Linked DNA regions of Homo sapiens. The protein of the gene in region 2 purifies or fractionates together with the protein of the main gene of each other region. This does not show direct contact. Each region holds a gene or a part of one and is shown on either strand. Other genes may lie near its edges.

Evidence for each region.
Region 1: the proteins of IFT122 (region 2) and DNAJC7 purify together in Homo sapiens (co-immunoprecipitation; 4 studies listed by BioGRID and IntAct, with this or other methods). This does not show direct contact.
Region 3: the proteins of IFT122 (region 2) and DNAJA2 purify together in Homo sapiens (co-immunoprecipitation; 2 studies listed by BioGRID and IntAct, with this or other methods). This does not show direct contact.

What each region holds. Positions count from the first base shown.
Region 1 is NC_000017.11:41,979,357-41,986,464, reverse strand, and holds part of DNAJC7 (dnaJ homolog subfamily C member 7), read left to right. Parts: intron 1-557; exon of another isoform or gene 558-2,828; coding exon 2,829-2,902; intron 2,903-4,063; coding exon 4,064-4,210; intron 4,211-4,457; coding exon 4,458-4,610; intron 4,611-7,108. UniProt on the Homo sapiens protein: Acts as a co-chaperone regulating the molecular chaperones HSP70 and HSP90 in folding of steroid receptors, such as the glucocorticoid receptor and the progesterone receptor.
Region 2 is NC_000003.12:129,478,224-129,485,331, reverse strand, and holds part of IFT122 (intraflagellar transport protein 122 homolog), read right to left. Parts: intron 5,567-7,108; exon of another isoform or gene 5,548-5,566; coding exon 5,410-5,547; intron 3,803-5,409; coding exon 3,638-3,802; intron 1,848-3,637; coding exon 1,650-1,847; intron 1-1,649. UniProt on the Homo sapiens protein: As a component of the IFT complex A (IFT-A), a complex required for retrograde ciliary transport and entry into cilia of G protein-coupled receptors (GPCRs), it is required in ciliogenesis and ciliary protein trafficking.
Region 3 is NC_000016.10:46,970,658-46,977,798, reverse strand, and holds the start of DNAJA2 (dnaJ homolog subfamily A member 2), read left to right. Parts: upstream 1-4,124; 5' UTR 4,125-4,226; coding exon 4,227-4,304; intron 4,305-5,843; coding exon 5,844-5,903; intron 5,904-6,226; coding exon 6,227-6,450; intron 6,451-7,141. UniProt on the Homo sapiens protein: Co-chaperone of Hsc70. Stimulates ATP hydrolysis and the folding of unfolded proteins mediated by HSPA1A/B (in vitro).

The DNA.
Region 1 (7,108 bases), on a different chromosome or scaffold from region 2:
CTTAATGGAATGCTCTGTATATGGAATGCCAGGGGATGGGAAGAGAAGAGAAAAATCGCTTTGTTTTATTTTTTGGGATGGAGTCTCGCTATGTCGCTCGGGATGGAGTCTCGCTATGTCGCTCAGGCTGGAGTGCAGTAGCACCGTACTGGCTCACTGCAACCTCCACCTCCTGAGTTCAAGCGAATTTCCTGCTTCAGCCTCCGAAGTAGCTGAGATTACCGGCGCATGTCACCACACCCAGCAAATTTTTGTATTTTTATTGGAGATGGGGTTTCATCATGTTGGCCAGGCTGTTCTCAAACTCCTGATGACAAGTGATCTGCCTGTCTTGGCCTCCCAAAGTTCTGGAATTACCAGCAGGTGTGAGCCACCGCGCCCGGCCTTTTTTTTTTTTTTTTTTTTTTTTTTTTTTTTAAGCAAGCCCCCAACACCATAGAAAATTCTTGATTTGCTCGGAGGATAATTGGATGAAGGATTATTTTCTTCTTTGTTTATGTGCAAGAAATGAAAATAAGGAATTGCTTTGATCAGACAACTTCTTATCTTTGTGGTAGAAACAGAACTGCCCTTCTTGGAGTGGCTCTGCCTCTGAGATCACTACAGGGGAGACAGCATGCCCTGTTCAGCTGGCTGAATATTTGGCAACAATCTCCTGAAGCAGCTGGAATTGACAAGAAGTACTGGAGATTAGCTCGGGCCAAACCCTTACATCTGGCCTGACTACTGCTGCAGTCTGCCTCAACTTACCCCTAAAGCTGGGGAGATGCCACCCACCCACATCTTTGCTACACATGCCATCATGAGCTAGAGTTCACCCTTTCTCCTTAAAGCCCTATTTACTTTTCTACTTCAACTTTAAAACAAAATTAAAATGTGAGGATATCCCTGAATTTTAAAAAGCATGAAGTAAAAATGCAAATTAGTATAGTTTGTTTAATACATTACATATAGACCTAAAGAAAGTTCATCAGGGTTAATCATTTGTCACATCATTCTATACCCAGGGCTATCAGCTATCAATTTTCCTTTTTTTTTTTTTTTTAATTCAGGATCCAGCTCTGTCACCCAGGCTGGAGTGCAGTATCAAAGTATCATTTCTCTTACTTCAAATTATTACATTTTATTCTGTACATTGATTCTGAACTCCTAATATAATATTTATGTCCTGTATTTGCAGGCCATTGGTTTTTTTAAAGTCATAAATCAAAATGATGCCAGAAAATCAAAGATGCCCAAGATGTTGGGCTTCTCTTTTGCCAGCCACATTGGTAGCACTCTCCTGCCCTGGCCTCCAAGCTGGTGGGGATCTGTGATGTTTGTGAAAATGGGCTTATGCCAGGCGCAGTGGCTCACGCCTATAATCCCAGCACTTTGGGAGGCCGAGGCGGGCAGATCGGTTCAGGTCAGGAGATCGAGACCAGCCTGGCCAACATGGTGAAACCCCATCTCTACTAAAAATACAAAAAATTAGCCAGGTGTGGTGGCACATGCCTGTAATCCCAGCTACTCAGGAGGCTGAGGCAGGAGAATCACTTGAAACCTGGGAGGCGGAGGTTGCAGTGAGCAGAGATCGTGCCATTACACTCCAGCCTGGGCTACAGAGTGAGACTCTGTGTCAAAAAAAAAAAAGAAAGAAAATGGGCTTGTGTGGTAGCAGGTAAGAAATTGAATCTCTGTTGTACAGCAGCTAGCTGTACTGCATGATCACTTCCCATTCCCCAGCTGACAGTGGCTGTCTCTGGAACTCCTACCACAGTCTTCAATTGGTAGGCCAGCCCTGGTGCCAGTGATTTTATCTGGGCATGGAAAATGCCACTTGCTTCTGTGGAAGAGACACTTAAAAGATCTGGCAGTCGGCCGGGTGCGGTGGCTCACGCCTATAATCCCAACACTCTGGGAGGTCAAGGCAGGCGGATCACGAGGTCAGGAGATGGAGACCATCCTGGCTAACACGGTGAAACCCTGTCTCTACTAAAAAAAAAAATAAAAAATTAGCTGGGCGAGGTGGCGGGCGCCTGTAGTCCCAGCTACTCTGGAGGCTGAGGCAGGAGAATGGCGTGAACCCAGGAGGCGGAGCTTGCAGTGATCCGAGATCACACCACTGCACTGCAGTCTGGGCAACAGAGCGAGACTCCATCTCAAAAAAAAAAAAAAAAAAAAAAGATCTCGCAATCATCCTGTCAAGCTTGATTCCTCCGATCTTGGGCCAAGGGCCCCTCCTTTCTTTTGTGCTACTGAAATAGAAGCAAACCTGTGTTTAGAGTTCCCTTTTCTGTCTCATTTACCTGCATCTCTCATTGATTGGTCTTAGTGGAGGGATTTGCCAGCAGCTGCCACGTTGAACTTGATCCTTTTAGTGGCTCACTAATCCCACCTCTATTCTGGATTGTAGCTAGTCCTGCATGTTTATGGCACTATAGGTTTCAAAGCTCTTTCATACCCATTTATTCACTTGATAATTTTTCTCTTGTGTGTTTCAACCCAAAGTAATCAAGTAGATCCCTTCACATTGTCTTTTCTAAGGCAGTCCAGTACCTCTTAGGTGGCTGTGTGTCAGAAGGAACTTTTTCCTCTTGATTACTTTCTGCTCAAAGCTGAACATCACTTTGCTGGTTGGATGCAAGTGCCATGCGACCTCTCTTTTTATTTCCTTGAGGACTTGTTAGCTAATTTTCTCTCACTGCTAGATTAAGGGCTCCTGTTTCTGAAGCATCTTACCAGAAGTGTGTGTCTCTTGCTTGAGCCATGCCTCTTGCCCTAGAGTGATCCTGAGAACCACTGCTATTTATGTCTTAGTGCTGTATTGCCTTGTATTTCCTTCTCAGTTACATGGACACAGAACAGTATGAAGAAGCAGTACGAGACTATGAAAAAGTATACCAGACAGAGAAAACAAAAGGTAAGTTTAAAAGCATTTGTTTTTTAGGGAACTGTGTGGACTTCGTAGGCCATAAATCTGTACACAAGGTAGTTTGATTCAGGGATCAGGGATCTACCTAGAACTTATTTGATCACCAGCCAGAAAGAAGTGAACAAAGGCTGGGCGTGGTGGCTCACGCCTGTAATCCCCAGCACTTTGGGAGGCTGAGGCAGGCAGATCACCTGAGATCAGGAGTTGGAGACCAGACTGGCCAACATGGTGAAACCCCATCTCTACTGAAAATACAAAAAATTGTGGGTATGGTGGTATACGCCTGTAATCCCAGCCACTCAGGAGGCTGGGGCACGAGAATTCCTTGAACCCAGGAGGCGGAGGTTGCAGTGAGCTAAGATTGCGCGACTATACTCCAGCCTGGGTGACGGAGCGAGACTTCATCTCAAAAACAAAAACAAAAAAAAGAAAAAAAAAGTGAACAGATATCTTGGGTTGGGGCATGAGGCACCTATTTTCTGGTTCCAGATCCTCCCTGTCGTTTTCATTTCATTTTTTGTGTGGTGAGGCTAAAGTGAGGAACCTAAGTCTGGGTAGATTTTCTTTTTTCTTTTTCTTTTTTTTTTTTTTAAGATGGAGTCCTGCTCTGTCACCCAGGCTGGAGTGCAATGGCATGATCATAGCTCACTACAACCTTTGCCTCCCAGGTTCAAACAATTATCCTGCCTCAGCCTCCCGAATAACTGGGATTACAGGCACATGGTACCACGCCTGGCTAATTTTTTGTATTTTTAGTAGGGATGGGGTTTCACCATGTTGGACAGGCTAGTCCCGAACTCCTGACCTCGGGTGATCCATTCTGTCAAGCTTGATTCCTCCCATCTTGGGCCAAGGGCCCCTCCTTTCTTTCGTGCTACCGAAATAGAAGCAAACCTGTGTTTAGAGTTCCCTTTTCTGTCTCATTTACCTGCATCTCTCATTGATGCAGGCCTCCCAAAGTGCTGCGATTACAGGCATGAGTCACCGTGCCTGGCCGAGTAGATTTTTTTTCTAATCTCCAGAAGAAAGCACCGTAAAAGTCCCTGGCATGGTTAACAAGGCCTCTAACTCCCAGGCAGCTGGGCTGAGACCTGGTGAGGAAAAAACCAGAGTCAGATTTGTCCACTGATGCCAGATGTCTTCCTGTAGAACACAAACAGCTCCTAAAAAATGCGCAGCTGGAACTGAAGAAGAGTAAGAGGAAAGATTACTACAAGATTCTAGGAGTGGACAAGAATGCCTCTGAGGACGAGATCAAGAAAGCTTATCGGAAACGGGCCTTGATGCACCATCCAGGTAGAGTAGGTGCGGGGAGTGGGCTCAGTGGGAAGAACCCGCAGGGCAGGCCAACTGCCACACTCAGTCCAGAGGGGACCCCTTGGAGAGGTCCTTCAGCTGAGAATAAGGTGTTGCAGACTTGTGGACCCTCCAAATTTTGGGAAGTGCCAAATTCCAAAATTAGACAGAAAGTAGTTTTTCTCTTAAACTTTGTTTTCTTGAAACTTTGATTTCCACTGAGTTGTTCTTTTACTCCCCACTTTAGATCGGCATAGTGGAGCCAGTGCTGAGGTTCAGAAGGAGGAGGAGAAGAAGTTCAAGGAAGTTGGAGAGGCCTTTACTATCCTCTCTGATCCCAAGAAAAAGACTCGCTATGACAGTGGACAGGACCTAGATGAGGAGGGCATGAATATGGGTGGTGAGTTGGCTGGGGCAGCCTGGGATGAATTTGACAGCTGTAGAATGTTAGAATTTTTTCCAAAGATGCTCCAGAGGGAGAGTCTATTTGGGCCAAATCTGATCCCTGGTCCAAACAGTAATAGACATGGAGTCAAACAAATGCAGTCAAATGTGGCAGGTTCACAGTGTGCAGTGAGCTCTGAGGAGGCGAGCACTAGCAAGGGAAGGCTTGGAAGTGCAGAAAAGCATGGCCCCATGGGTCATGCCTGTAATCCCAGCACTTTGGGAGGCCAAGGCAAGCAGATCACTTGAGGTCAGGAGTTTGAGACCAGCCTGGCCAACATGGTGAAACCCTGTCTCTACTAAAAATACAAAAATTAGGCTGGGCGCGGTGGCTCATGCCTGTAATCTCACCACTTTGTGAGGTCAAAGCAGGTTGATCACCAGGTCAGGAGTTTGAGACCAGCCTGGCCAACATGGTGAAACCTCGTCTCTACTAAAATACAGAAATTAGCCAGGTGTGGTGGTGGGCGCCTGTAATCCCAGCTACTCGGGAGGCCGAGGCATGAGAATCGCTTGCACCCAGGAGGCGGAGGTTGCAGTGAGCCGAGATTGTCCCACTGTACTCCATCCTGGGCGACAGAGCAAGACTTTGTCTCAATTAAAAAAAATAATAAGAAGAAAGAAAAAAGAAAAATTAGCCAGGTGTGGTGGTGCACACCTGTAATCCCAGCTACTTGAACCCGGGAGGTGGAGGTTGCAGTGAGCCAAGATGGCGCTACTGCACTCCAGCCTGGGCAACAGAGTGAGACTCCATCCCTCCCCACTAAAAAAGCAAAGCATGGCCTCTTTGGGGATCTGCAGGGGGCTTGGTCTAGGGAAGATAAAGGGATAGGGTGCTAGAGGCAGGTGGTGGTGGAAGGCCGGCAAGTAGCTGGATCAGAGCTCACAGGCCATAAGGGCTGTATGTGGTAAGGAATATGAGCATTTTCCTATTATCTGGAAGTTCTTTTTTACCCACTGCAAAGTGTATGCTGACATTTATGTATGTCATACATTCCTATAAACACTCACAGATTTTAATTTCCCAAAAAGATTTAGCATGATATAAAGCACACCTATTGTCAATATTGTTGCTCACTGTGGGCTGTCAGAGATAAGAGGCCCTGACCTGTGAGCTGGGCGCGGTGGCTTACGCCTGTAATCCCAGCACTTTGGGAAGCCAAGGCGGGCAGATCACCTGAGCTCAGGAGTTCAAGACCACCCTGGGCAACATACAAAATACCAAAAAAATTGTACTCTCTACTAAAATACAAAAAAATTAGCTGAGCATGGTGGTGCATGCCTGTGGTCCAAGCTACTCAGGAGACTGAGGCACCAAAAACTCTTGAGCCCAGGAGGCAGAGGTTGCAGTGAGCTGAGATTGCGCCACTGTACTCCAGCTTGGGTTACAGAGTGCGACTCCATCTCAAAAATTAATTAATTAATTCAGTCAGTCTTCACTCTAAGTTGTCTGCCAAAAAATTTGCTGGGCATGGTGGCTCACGCCTGTAATCCCATCACTTTGGGAGAACAAGGTGGGCGGACCACAAGGTCAAGAGATTGAGACCATCCTGCCCAACATGGTGAAACCCCGTCTCTATGAAAAATACAAAAATTAGCTAGCCATGGTGGCGCACGCCTGTAGTCCCAGCTACTTGGGAGGCTGAGGCAGGAGAATCGCTTGAACTCGGGAGGCGGAGGTTGCAATGAGCTGAGATCGCACCACTGCACTCCAGCCTGGCGACAGAGCAAGACTTGTCTCAAAAAAAAAAAAAAAAAGAGGACCTGACCTGTGAATGGTGAACAGACCTACCATCTCTTCCACTAAGAAAATCTATTGGGATTTTGTTTTTTGTTTTGTTTTGTTTTTTGAGACGGAGTCTTGCTGTGTCACCCAGGCTGGAGTGCAGTGGCACCATCTCGACTCACTGCAACCTCCGCCTCCAGGGTTCAAGTGATTCTTCTGCCTCAGCCTCCCGAGTAGCTGGGACTACAGGTGTGCGCCACCACGCCCAGCTAATTTTTGTATTTTAAGTAGAGACGGGGTTTTACCATATTGGCCAGGCTGATCTGGAACTCCTGACTTCGTGATCCACCCACCTCGGCCTCCCAAAGGGCTGGAATTACAGGCGTGAGCCACCGCGCCCGGCCTTTTTTTTTTTTTTTTTTTTTTTAAGACTGAGCCCAGTCTGGGTGCAGTAGTGCCATCTTGGCTCACTGCAACCTCTGCCTCCAGGGTTCAAGCAATTCTCCTGCCTCAGCCTCCTGAGCAGCTGGGATTACAGGCATCCACCCCCATGCCTAGCTAATTTTTATATTTTTAGTAGAGACAGGGTTTCACCATGTTGGCCGGGCTGGTCTTGAACTCCTGACCGCAAGTGATCTACTGGCCTTGGCCTCCCAAAGTGCTGGGATTACAGGCGTGAGCCACTGTGCCTGGCCTTCCATTGCAACTTATTTATTTATTTAATTTTT
Region 2 (7,108 bases):
TGGGCTCTAGCCTGAAGCTGAGTTGTATGGGGAAAACAGACTGACAGAGCCTAGCGGAAGGGAAACCTGGAAATTTCCCTAAAAGTCTTTCAAAGGTACACGTGCTTTGACCCAGCAATTTCATTTCTAGGAATTTATGCCAAGGCGCCAAGTTGGGACAGGTGCAAGGACCTAGCTAGAAAGATGCCTGCTATTTACAATAATACAAAAAAGCTATAAGCAGCAAACATGTCCAGTAGGACTGGTAAAGAAAGCTGTGGAACATCCACAAGACACAATAAAATGCAGCTGTAAATACAAGGCAGGTGGGGACCAGGCAGGAGGGAGGGGTGCTGGCTGTAAAAAGCACAACACCAGGGACCTTGTGGTGGTGGCAGTGTTCAGTGCCATGACTGTGGTGGGAGATTACACATGCCAACATGGGTGGGAAGATCACTCTAGAGCTATGCACACTGTTACCGTTGGGGGAAACTAGGCAAAGGGTTTAAGGGATCTCTGTATTATTTCCTACAATTTATGTGAGTCTACAATTACCCTAAATTTTGCCATGCAGAATAAGAACATTTACCATTTACTGACACAGAACGATGCTTTAGGAGATTGTTGAGTGAAAAGGCCAGATGACTAGTGTACAGCCAGCACTTCATAGACAGTGATGGGGCTGCCATAACCGAATGTGAGGTGAAATGAGAAGATAGCCATAAAGGAAGGGATGAGAAGTCTTGTTTACAGGCCAGGCTCAGGGAATACAGTAAATCTGAGGTTCCATCTATAGGTAGCAATACGTATACACATAAAAGTCATGAAAAGTATTTGCAGTGTGATTCCACTTTTGTTTAAAAATGTTCTTATAAAACCACATGCTCCTAATTGTATATTATGCATATATTATATATACACGTAGAAAAGCGCTAAGCAGATGTATTTCAACATGTTTAAGAGTGATTCTGTCCTGAGGATGGGATGCTGAAGGCTACAGTTTCTCGCTATGCACGTCTCTGTTTTATGGCAATTCTACAGTGAGCACCATCTGCCTGGGGTGCAGAAGGTGGAGGGGAGACCATCCTGCATTCGGGAGGTCAATCTCAGGCGCCTGTCTGTGGTTCTGCCCTCCCCCATTCTGTGGCTCCACCCTTCAGTGCCCCATTTCTGTTCTGGCCACCTCCTGGTTCAGAGAGCTTGTGCAGAGTCCCATGCTCCCTTATTGGCTCACAGACCTCAGCCCACACCCCCCACCCACTCATTCTCTCTCTCCCCTCTCTCTCACACACACATCACCACCATCACACACGTACTCACACACACACCCTGCCGGACTCCCGGCTTTGCTGCTCACTCCATTCGGCCCCACGCTGGGCTCTCTGCAAAACACACGCTGCTGACAACACTGCATACCCCTCCCATCCCTACAGAAAGGGGACAAGGAAGAAACTGATACTCAGGGAGGTTGAGCTGTTTGCCCCCAGTCACACAGGTTGCAAGGAGTGGAGACAGGGCGGCAGGTTCCAGGCCCAGACTGCCTCCCACGACCTCACAGCTGCCATTCTTCTCTCCTTGCTACTCTCTCCCCAAAGCACCAGCAAAGGGCCCAGCTTCCCTGGTCTTGTCAGCCTTGCCAGTGCTAAGAGTGGACAGGCACCCCCAGTTACCTGCGGCACCTCCACGGCAGAAATGGAGAAGACATGGAGGCAGAAGATCTTGGAGCCATTGTAGCCGACCACAAAGCCCTGCAGCTTCTGCCGGTGCACAGGGAAGGTGCTGGCTTTGATGTTGAGGTAGCCTCCTCCCGAGAAGCAGAGCATGTCCTCACACTGGGTGTTCCAAGCTACACTGTTGGCGTTTGGTTCCTGGGGAACAGGGACAGTGGGGATCCTGTGAGAACCACCCTGGGCTTGGTCAGCGCTCACACATTTCAGCCCAATACCCTCTTAAAGACTGAATCCCACTAAATTGCTTACAGTGGGATGGAGGGAAAAGGATGAAAGGGGACCACAAAGAAATGAACAGAGGCAAGAGAAATGAACAGAGGCAAGCCCCTCCATGCACCTGCGTGTTGTTGGAATTTTTGAGTAAGCAAGTATTACTTTTGAAAAAAAATTATTCTCCTGAAATATGCTCATACCTTTCTGCCTAGGATCTTTTATAATGACTAAATCTTTTATAATCAGCATGGATTGTTTTTTATAATGAGAAAAAATCAATATAGCTGTTTTATGTGTAGAGGGAGGGGCAGTGGAGAAGAGGAAAAGCCAGCAGGCAATGTTACAGCTGGGAATGCTGATGTCTCCTGGCAGGGCTGAGAATCACCTCCCCTAGCCTGCCATAGAGCCAGCAGTGGGGATGGGGCAGCACAGACGCCCTTCCACACTTGTATGATTCTAGGCTCAGACACAAGATTCACATTTGGGGCCAGCTATGCCCCCTATAGGTGGGAGGTGAGGCTGGGGAGAAGGGAAGTAACATTTCAGGCCCCATTTTGTGCTCAACACTGAGCTAGGCACTGTAGTATCTAGTGTATTCCTGTAGCAATTCTGTAAGGGGCAATTACTAATTTCATTTTAGAGAAAAGTAATTAAGGCTCAGAGAGGCTCACTAACTTAAGATCACACAGTAAGGGATGCAGGCAGGACCCAAGCCCAGGTCAGCTTGAAGGCTATGCCCTCTCTTTCCCCGAAACCATTCTACTCTCTCAAGGACATGAGTGAGTTGAGACTGACATGGAGTTACCTCTGGGCTAGAGGTGGCCAGGTAACTCCTTCTAATTGACTGAGGCTGCTCCCCACTCCAGACCCCTCCCCCATCGATTCTGCTGCTGAGAACAAGGAGGAGCCTGGTAAGGGGACTGAATCTGCCCATAACATCAGGAAACCCTGCAGTGGCCGAGGAAACCAGTCAGGAGGGGCTCCAGCTTTGGGGGGAACTTCACTCTGGAAAACCAGTCCTGACCACCTACAAAGACCTAAAGAGAGAAAGAATGGCGCGAGCCCAGCAGAAAGCCAACCAGGCCCGGGGCACAGAGCTGCCGGGCTGTCTTCTCTGGTGACACACTTCCTCAGGCCACAGGGCTGGATGACTCCACTGAACAACGCCTACAACCCCAAAGATCCAAGCACTTCGCATTCTGCTGGCTCTTCTAGCATTCTTGTGAATTAAGTAGAAGGCCAGGCTTGCCCATCCCCTTCCCCCTTTCAGATGACAAAACATCCTGTTTCCTTCCCACGCTGTAGGTGCGCATAGACACAGGCAGGCCTGCAGCAGGTGAGACACAGACTTCTGCAAAGGAAGTGCATCCATCGCCCCATTCACTGAGTGCCAACGTCACACCCCTCTCAGAGTCATTGCCCCATTTCTTGTTCATGGTAAACGCTTAAGAAAGGCTCTGCTGGCTCAGAGCCTTCGGTTTCCATTGGCAAGGAAACCAAAGTTAAAGAGGCCGGTCCAGGCCCTGCGGCTTGTGCCTGTGTGGGAGGAGCAGGTTGTGGCCCAGGGCCTCTGGGACTCTGTGCATGTGCTTGGCCCCTGCCCCTCCCAGAGACCTGCCTGGGCCAGAGCAGGAGAGCCTCCTGCAGGGACTGGGAAGCTAGAGGAGAGTCTCTAATCAAAGGATGATGTCCCTGGGCCCCCTCAGGGACTTCACCTGAAAAAGCAGCTCCTTGGTGTCGATGTCATACACCAGGCAAGTGTCATTTTCATCTACCACGGCCAGCTTCTTACGGGAGGCACTCATGTCCAAGCAGCGCACAGCTGTGGCCTGCTTCAGCAGGACGATAGCAAAGAGATTGTCCACGAAGATCTTCAGGATCTGGCAAAATTTCAGCGAAAACAGTGTCAGTCACCATGGCAACAAGATCCTGGCCCACTGCCAGGCCGTTGGAATCCCATGTGCTCTGCAAGAACAACTCCCACCACCTTCACCAGAAGCTCTGTGCAGGGAAAAGGACTCATCAAAAGAAAGAGGGGGGTGGGGGGCAATGGCTTATCCTTAGGAGGCCAGAAGCGAGGTTCATCAGAGGCTGCAGAAGTAATGACAGCCCTGAGACAGGCCGAGCTCACTTCAGTGTCTGTTCGGACTGGGGATTTGTTGATGACATTACCCAAACTGCAGCTTTAGGAGATGCCACCTAGCAGAGATCTGAGTCACGAACTAACACAGGAAAAAGCTACTATGAACACTGACAAGACATGTGGTAGAAAATTATAATAATGATGATAGTGATCATGATAGCTATCATTTACTGATATCCCTGGTTTAAAAAAAATTTTTTTTAGAGATAAGGTCTTGCTATGTTGCCCAGGCTGATCGCAGTGGCTATTCACAGGTATAATCATATCACACTGCAGCCTCAAACTCCTGGGCTCAAAGTGATCCTCCTATCTCAGCCTCCTGAGTAGCTGGGAAAACAGGTACCCTCCACCATGCCTGTTTTAATACCCCTGGTGTTTTTTTTGTTTTGTTTTGTTTTTAACATTGGCTTTAACTCCCAACCCTGATGATATCTGTTTTTGACAGCCCTATGAAATATGTGGTATTATCCTCATGTAAAACCAGCCTCACAGAGGTAAAGTGACCTGCCCAGGATGACAAAGCCAGTGAGTAGCTAAGTAAGAACACGACCTCCGGCCCACCTGACCCCATAGTCCATGCTCCCATTGGAAGTGAGAGCTGCCTGAGAAATAAGCGGCCCTTCCTCCCCTTGGCATTGCTGCTTGACTTCACCCACTGCTCTCATGCCCTGTGACTTCCATCCCCAGCAAAGACCTGACAAGCCTCAGCCATAAGCCATCTGCTGCACAGCTTGGCTGTCAGGCTAATGCAGCTACATTGTCACTTTCAAAGTTCCATGTAGCAGCCTACTTAGAACTTTTCTTATGCTGAGCAAAGAACACACGTGTACACATGTATACACACACACAGAATTTTGTGTAACCTGGATATCCCACATCTAACTGGCCAAAGGGCCCATTTTGCTTATGACATCTATCAGTATCTTGAGGACCCAGCATTCTTTAGGACACATGCTGGAACGCACTGCCTTAATCCACTCGCTGCCCTAATCAGGAGCTGACCTAGGTAACGATCTCTGCCTCCCTCTAGAAATCCACAGAAGCAACATCTCTAACAAATCTCCCACCTTCTGGAGACCTTAAGCCACTAATACACTCTACATGTAGCCAAAGGTTATAGCTCAACTCTGCCAAAACGTGGGCCTGCTAGGAGTGTGAGGGCCACAGCACCTTTGGCCTGAGGCTGTCCTCAAAAAACTGAACTCAGGCTGCCCCACAATTCACCCATGGAGGAGAGAAGCCCTTTTCCTGCCCTGAGAACCCAGCTCAGAGTCATTGCTAGACGGGTCACCCACGTGTGCATGCAGATTATCAGCCTGACAGGAGACGTGAGGGAGCACTCACCTGTCCATTCTTCAGCCCCACTAAGAGGCCTTCTCTTCCAGGAGGGCCACCGATCACCTTGATGTAACGAATGAGAGACTCCATCTGCCACTCCCGCTCCTTCACTCCGCTGAAGGACAGGCACTGCAGCCGTTTCTCCTAGGAAGCAAACCCAGCTCTGCATGGAAATTCAACAGAATAAGTGCCCCCAGACCTCCCCAAGGAGATCTTTCTGTCCCTAAGGGGAGAAAATACCTACACATTCAGTATCCATCTATCTAACCCAATGTAGACCCCACGATTGGCATCGTTAATCCAAGACTCCATGCAAGGCTTCCCCACGGAGCCCAATTCAGCCTCAGATCTTCAATGCAAACCCCCACCCAGGCAGCCTAGGCCAGAGGCAGCACTCAAAAGTACACATACTTGCCACATCTATCCTGTAATTTGTAGCAACCCTAAACCGCTTGGAGTTCTAACTTTGATTATTTATTTATTATTTGTTTTTGAGACAGAGTCTCACTCTGTCACCCAGGCTGGAGTGTAGTGGCGCTATCATAGCTCACTGCTGCCTCCAATTTCTGGCTAAAGCAATTCTCCTGCCTCAGCCTCCCAAGTAGCTGGGACTACAGGCAAGCGCCACCACACCCAGCTAATTAAATAATTTTTTTTTTTTTTTTTTTTTTTTGGTGGAGATGGGGTCTCTGTTTTCTAGACTGCTTTCGAACTACTAGCCTCAAGCAATCATCCTGCCTTGGCCTCCCAAAGTGCTGGGATTTACAGGCATGAGCCACTGCACCCAGCCCAGTTCTAGGCTTTTGAGAGATTTTAATAGTATTTTACACTACAGTGATTCCTAAGGAATTCTTCTCTTTTATCACCTCCAACAGAACTATGTAAAACTAAATCCACCTCTACTTCCAAGATGCTGGGCTAGCCTTCTCTCAAAGTCTTTCCAAACTTCTCTTGGCATTGACTTAGACACTCTCTAAGAATCTTGAGAAATATTTTTCTATGAAAAAAAATCTTTCAGGAATTAAAACTTCCTTGACAATTACTGAGTTGATACAAATTTTATGTGTATATGCTTATCAATAAAAACTATCTTCATTCTGTACACCAATTTATGTTTTAAGTCATTAAAGTATATCTAATCCCAGTATGACAAGATGTTCTGCAATAGAACAAGGTATTCTTGGCTAGACACAGTGGCTCACACCTATAATCCCAGTACTTTAGGAAGCTGGACAGGTCTCAAACTCCTGGGTTCAAGCATTCCTCCCGCCTTAGCCTCCCAAAGTACAGCCTCGCGTCTCTACTAAAAATAAAAAATTAGTTGGGTGTGGTGGCATGTGCCTGTGGTGCCAGCTACTCAGGAGGAAGACCGCTTGAGCTTGGGAGGTCAAAGCTGCAGTGAGCCATAATTGTGCCACTGCATTCCAGCCTGGGCAACAGAGCAAGACCCTGTCTGTCTCAAGAAAAATATTTTTTAAAAAATAATAAAATAAAACAAAAAAACATTCTCCAGTTTATGGCTCATGACTTGCTGATAGAGTCTGGTTCATCCAGATGCCAGGAAAATGAAAGCCAATAAGCACCACTTAGTTTGATGGAACAGACTTGTTTTCTAGTGACCAGTTTTAAAACCATGAGGTGGGCACCCTATCACTGGGGGGGGAGCACAAATGGAATTCAGCCCAACTCCTTCAACATGCTGCTG
Region 3 (7,141 bases), on a different chromosome or scaffold from region 2:
CTCCTGCCCCAGCCTCCCAAGTAGCTGGGACTACAGGTGCCCACCACCACGCCCGGCTAATTTTTTGTATTTCTAGTAGAGACGGGGTTTCACCGTGTTAGCCAGGATGGTCTCGATCTCCTGACCTCGTGATCCACCCACCTTGGCCTCCCAAAGTGCTGGGATTACGCGCATAAGCCACCACGCCTGGCCTTTATGTATATTATGTATATATTATATATATATTACAGTGGTAATGAGGTGTGTGTATATATATACACATATATGTGGAAAACATATATATTCATATTCATATCTCATATTATCACAATAGACATATCTTCTCCACTATTTTTCCCACACTAATTGTTAGATGGCTAAATTTATTGGGTCAATTTCTCTGCTTACTATACCACTGCAATTATATAAGCAAACTGAACCTTTGGAAAATGCTAATTAATAAGGCAGGGTTTGACACGACTGGGTTTGAAAGGCCAGCAGTGGGGCTAGAAATACCTACCACATACAACTGTGCTGCCCCATCACTGAATAATCTACTTTAAGCACTGAAAGAAATTCAGAGATTATTCAGTGATCCAAGTCCCACAATTTTTTCTTTCCAGAGTACCAACAATCATCAAATTATGTGGTCCTGACACCCTCATAACAAGAACCATCAGTACCTTCTTCTGTATCCCCCCAAAATATTTTAACCTGCATCACTTACTCTATACATTCAAACCTAGTTAAAGCAGAAAGCAAAACTATTTTCTGACTGCCTCAATGATATATCTGGAGTTGTCTAAGTAATGGATTACACAGTTCCCAATTACTTGTGAACAGTATCAATGGTCTTCAAAAATACTACAGTTCCTATACCCCCCGTCCCAGTCCATATCCACCTCCTCTCCATCCCAACCCTTCACAGTTACACAAGCATACTAAATCAAAGCAAAGGAATTGAACACCAATATAAGCCTGGCAGAAATCTGAAATCACTGCCGCCTCAAACTTTAGATCACTGCAGCGCTCAGGTGTACTGTGACTCAGCATTTTACAGTGCCTGAGACATGAAATGAGATAAAGGTCCTTTTCCCTTCACAGCATTGGCTAAACATGAAGCCAAAATAAATATGCTACCTCAAAACAGTTAGTGGCTGGAACATTACAGTGCTCACACTGACACAGGTTTATCTCAGTCTGTGATCCTTGGGAGGAGACCCTGTGTCAGTTTAAGCACACAAAGTTCTTCTGAAATAACTCGAGCTATAAAATTAGCAAATTATGCTGACTACAATTAATACCCAGAAATGGAGAAAATATTGCAAAGAAATGAAAATGAAATTCAAAAATAGTTACTGTGGTTACTGGTCTAGTCAGGTAAAAAACTAAAATAAAATAACAAGAACAAAAGAGGGAATTTACCCAGCTACTCTTCATTACAATATCAGAAGCTAAAATGGCATCAAGAGAGAATTTTTTCCTCTTGCAAAAAAAAAAACTGAGTAAAACTGAAACAAATAGGAAACTCCAGCCCTTTTAAACTGTTCATGGGCAGAAGGAAAATAAGATAAAACAATATGAAACAAATAAGATAAATTAATATGAAGGTTGCAACAAAGACAGATTTTCAGTTCATATTCTTACGTGGAGCAGGAACTAACAGAGAAATGAGACGAGAGAAAATGATAACTGACAAGCAAGGAGATTTGGGAAGATGAGGTCATGAAAAGGGACGGAGGGGCATTCCCCATAGGTAATGGAAGAAGTCAGGGAATCCCAGTAGAAAAGCCAGAAATTTAAATGAGCAAAGACAACGTAAGCATATGGGCCAAGAACAATAGTTTATACTTAATTTCTTTTAGCTTCTTAGTAATTTTTTAAATTTTAATTATTTATTATTATTTTGAGACAGGGTCTCACTCTGTCACCCAGGCTGGAGTGCAGTGGTGTGATCTTGGCTCACTGCAACCCCCACCTCCTGGGCTCAAGGGATTCTCCCACCTCAGCCTCCCGAGTAGCTGGGACTACAGGCGTGCGCAACCACCCCCAGCTAATTTTTGTGTTTTTAATAGAGACGGGGTCTTGCCATGTTGACCAGGCTGGTCTCGAACTCCTGACCTCAAGTGATCAGGACTTGAGGCAGGAGTGATCCCGCCTCAGCCTCCCAAAGTTCTGGGATTACAGGCCACTGCGCCCAGCCCTAAGTAATAGAAATGTATAACTCTTTTAAACCAATGATATAAAAAATAACAAGCCCCATCTTACACCTGAGGAAACCTCAGAAAAGTTAAGTAACTTGCTGAAGGTCACATTGTTCCTAAATGGCAGAGTCAGACTACCAACCTACACAGTCTAACCTCGCCATAACTTTACACCGTCTCTTACGAACATCTCAAAATGTGAAAAGTAGAGAATTGGATTTTACAGCCGTGCATGAGGATGACGTCAGCATTTACACGGCAATGGCGGTTGGCAGAGGCAGTGGCTCAGGCCTGCAATCCCAGCACTTTGGGAGGCCAAGGTGGGTGGATGATTTGAGATCAGGAGTTCGAGACCAGCCTGGTCAACATGGTGAAGCTCCACCTCTACTAAAAATACAAAAATTAGCCGGGCATGGTGGTGGGCGCCTGTAATCCCAGCTACTCGAGAGGCTGAGGTGGGAGAATCACTTGAAGCCGGGAGGTGGAGGTTGCAGCGAGCTGAGATGGCGCCACTGCACTCCAGCCTGAGCGACATAACGAGACGCTGTTTCAAGTAAAAAAAAAAAAAAAAAAAAAAAAACAAAAGAGTTCGAGATCCTACCACAAAAGGTACAAACGAAGGGTGGTGGGAACTCGAATGAGATAGCAGTGTTCACCAGTGCCCAGTAAAGGAAGACTTCACAGAGGGAGCAGGATTTCAGATGGGATTTGAGGAAAAGGGTTTAAGGACTATTAATGACTTATCACTGATTACTCTTAGGGTTTTCAAGCTAAATTTCAGAGTCCTTGTCATGGAATTCAGGCCCTCCACAACTAGGTCAAAGGGAACGCCAAGGAAGAAACATTATCCTGAGTGAGATGCTTATGCTGAAGTCTTTGCTATCAGTTCAGGTTCCAAGGGATCAGAAAACCTTACTTTTCTGTCTCCATAAACCGTAAATGGGTTGAAGGCAGGCACTTTTGTAACACTCCTCTCCCCGGACCAGGCCTCTGTACATCATAGCACTTGGTAGATGCACAGCATACTTTCTGAGCGAAACTAAAACGAATGTAAATCAAGTCACCTGGTGGCCAGACTTGCCTTACACCATCTAAACCTCTGGTGTTAGCTAATTTTAAAGCTATCAAGTAAGAGGCTTAAACACGTGGTCCAGATGCAACATGTGGACCTTGGTTTGGACCCGGATGCCACAAACCAATTGTAAAAGGACATGAGATCATCTGAAAAACCTAAATATGGACTGGGAATTAGATTAAGGAATTGTTAATTTCATTAGATGAGATTACATCGTTATGCCTTTAAAAGTTGTCTCTTAGATATTAAATATATACACTTAGGGTATTTATGAATGAAACGGTTTCCCTTAAAACACTAGAAATGTATGGTGGAGCCAATGAAACAGGTAAAAGGTAGCTAACTGCACTATGGGGAGTAATATACTGCTTCTGCTAAATGTTTCAGAATTCTCATAATATAAAACACAACATACACACACACGCGCCCCCCAGTTTTTTTCATCGTAAGCCCCGAGGGAGCCAGACCCAGAGGGTCCACCGACGTCCCGGATTCTAATAACGACATCTGCGCGCCAGGCGGGCCTCCTGCGGGAGCCGGGGCCCATTTTCTTTCGAAGCTAACGAAGCTGCTGCGCAGGCCTGTTAATTCCCTCAGCAGCCAGTGCGAGGTTAAACACGCGACCTCGCAACCATGGCTTTTGAGAGGAAGCTGAATTCCTGGGGTGCGCCGTGCACAGTTCTTCATTTCCTACGTTGGCCCTGCCCAGCCGCCTGGACCTGGAGGAAAACAGAGAACCTGGCCCACTCTTCAATACTTCGACCCCAGTGGCCGCGCCTCGGGCGCTCGGGGGCGGGCTCTGCACAGCGACGTCACGGCGCACCGTGCGCTGGGTCAAAGTTCAGCCCCGCCCCCGCTTCCCCCTCGCTGTCTCCCTCGGCCTGTGCCGCCGCCGACGCCGCTTGTGGGCCCGACTCCGCTCTGTCTGCTTCGCCACCTTCTCCCCGAGCACTGCCCGGCCGGCCGCCATGGCTAACGTGGCTGACACGAAGCTGTACGACATCCTGGGCGTCCCGCCCGGCGCCAGCGAGAACGAGCTGAAGAAGGTATCTGGGAGCGGGCCGGGCGGGTGTGAGGGGCGCGGGGCCTGCGCGGCCAGGGATGTCTTCTTCAGCCAGGCCGCGCTACTGGGCTGCCCGCGAGCCGGCGCCGGCCGTGACTGGCCCGGGCTGGGAGTCGGCGGCGGCGGCGGGACCGGCCTCGCCGCGAGCCGCGCACTCCGGCCTCGGCTGACCTTGGGGCCGCCGGCCCCGCCCGCCCGCAGATGCAGCAAATAAAACTCACTCCTGCGCAAACACGATGGGAGCCCTTCCTTCCTCCCTCCTTGAACGAGCGCCGGGGGCTGGTATCCCCCGGGAGGCAGCAGCTCGCCCGGTCCTTCGCGTCGAGGTCACCACCCCGGAAAAACAGGTTGGACCGAGGTGCTCAGCGCATCCCGGCCCCGAGAGAGAAGCTGTCCGCCCCGCGGCCGTCGGCCCCGGGTCTGGTGCTCCGCGGGGAGGAACGGCGGGGAGGTCGAGGCCGCCCCCACAGAGCGCCTCGGGCGGATGGGGTTGTTTCCTGGGTTCCGCGGCCGCCGGCTGCGGGAGCTCCTCCCTCTCTGCGTCCCTCGCCCATTGACCCGGAGGTAGCTGGGTCTGTGTTTGGATGCATTGTTCTTTGGGCAGGTAATGCTAATGTCCTGTACCTGCTTAGGAATAAGCCGTGGTCCCAGCCAAACGCCTGAGTGTACAGTAAACATAAATAGAAGGCCTTATTATTGCTATTTGCAATGCTGCGATATCTTTCATCTCAGGATTTCAAAGCACACGAGGCATTTAAGCCCCACAGCATCCTCACCAGGCTAAGAGCATCCAGATTTGTAAGCCGAGAAAAATGAGAATGCTCCTTAGGCAGTGAGAAGAGTACAGTGGACTTCCTGTTACCTTACCGGAAATGCTAGTCTGTATTATATAATTCACGAGCCTCCGTGAATGAAGATTTAAGTGCTTTAGGACCCAAACACCTCGTTGAGAGTGTGTGCAACTTCTCTACCACCGAAGTTGCCACCACGACCCCAGTTAACCACCACGTGCAAATAAAACACCAAAAGACGCTAACTAGGACCACCTTTACTTTTTCATGATGTTACAGTTAGAAGGAAGGCGTGAGCCATCGGGAGCAGGAATTGTGACTTTAGCTTGATTTATAGTAATGTTTTGCAGTCCGCAAAGCTTAACAGTCATTTATCTCGAATTTATTAGGGTCGTCTTGGTCTGGTTACTTGGCCATCAAAGACACTTGACAATAGGGAAAATATGGATAATGTTTGAACGTTTTGTTTTTCCCTGTGGCATTGCTTCATTGTTTTATCTGGTTTTCACGTCACTGTAACCTGTTTTCAAGTATAGCTGCTGTCTACTTGGTTATATTACATTAGTAAACAGTATCGCGAGAAAGTGCCGAAGAATCCCTACGAATAGAAAATATTTTTGAAAGGTTATAACTCTAGAACATTACTTCTCAGAAAAGTGGATATTAAGTTATTACAAAACTTTTAACTGGTGTTTAGTTATAACCTTTTTTGTTTTTATCCATTTTCAAAGGCATACAGAAAGTTAGCCAAGGAATATCATCCTGATAAGAATCCAAATGCAGGAGACAAAGTAAGTTATTTGCACCTTTTTTATTCCGGGGGTTTTAGCTTTAACTTAAATTGCCCTCCTTGAAAAAGAGGAATGTTGCAGGAAAAAAATCCAACTATGCCCACACAGCCACATTTTCATAATGTCAAGAGTATTTTAGTTTTAGAATAAGAGTACTACCATTCTGAGGAGCGGTGGGTGGTAAATAGAACCAGAATCAAGTCAAAGGTAACTTGTCCCTTTTTTTTTTTTTTTAGAATTAAATGGATTCTGGATTCCTGTAGCTTCTCCCCACTCTTCTACTTGAAAATGCAATTATTTTTATTTTTACCTTTTCTTTATAGTTTAAAGAAATAAGTTTTGCATATGAAGTACTATCAAATCCTGAGAAGCGTGAGTTATATGACAGATACGGAGAGCAAGGTCTTCGGGAAGGCAGCGGCGGAGGTGGTGGCATGGATGATATTTTCTCTCACATTTTTGGTGGGGGATTGTTCGGCTTCATGGGCAATCAGAGTAGAAGTCGAAATGGCAGAAGAAGAGGAGAGGACATGATGCATCCACTCAAGTGAATATCTTGTTTTGTTGTTTTAAAAAATTAAGTACTTTTTGTCAAGTGGGATAATGACTCAGTAGATGAAAAATCTCATAGAGTGTTCTGTCCTTCATTAGAAAAACTTCCATTTGCCTTGTCTTCTTTTGGTGACTAAATTGAATTTGATTATCTGAATGTTTCTATTTCGCTGTAGCTCTTAAAAGGACAGTCGATATTTTTTAATGAGAGGAAGGTGGTTTTATATGGTTCTGAGGCTGCTTGTTATTATAGGACTTAAAATTTCAACTGTGAAGATCATTTTCTCTCTCTCTCTTTTTTTTTTTTTGAGACCGAGTTTCGCTCTTGTCCAGGATGGAGTGCAGTGGCACAATCTCAGCTCACTGCAACCTCTGCCTCCTGGGTTCAAGCGATTCTCCTGCCTCAGCCTCCCAAGTAGCTGGGATTACAGGCATATGCCAACACACCCGGCTAATTTTGTATTTTTAGAAGAGATGGGGTTTCTCCATGTTGGTCATGCTGGTCTCGAACTCCCAACCTCAGGTGATCTGCCTGCCTCGGCCTCCCAAAGTGCTGGGATTACAGGCGTGAGCCACTGTGCCCGACCTTTTTTTTTTTTTTTTTTTTTTTTTTGAAATGGAGTCCCTGTCGCCCGGGTTGGAGTGCAGTGGCACCATCTAGGCTCACTGCATCCCCCTCCTCTCAG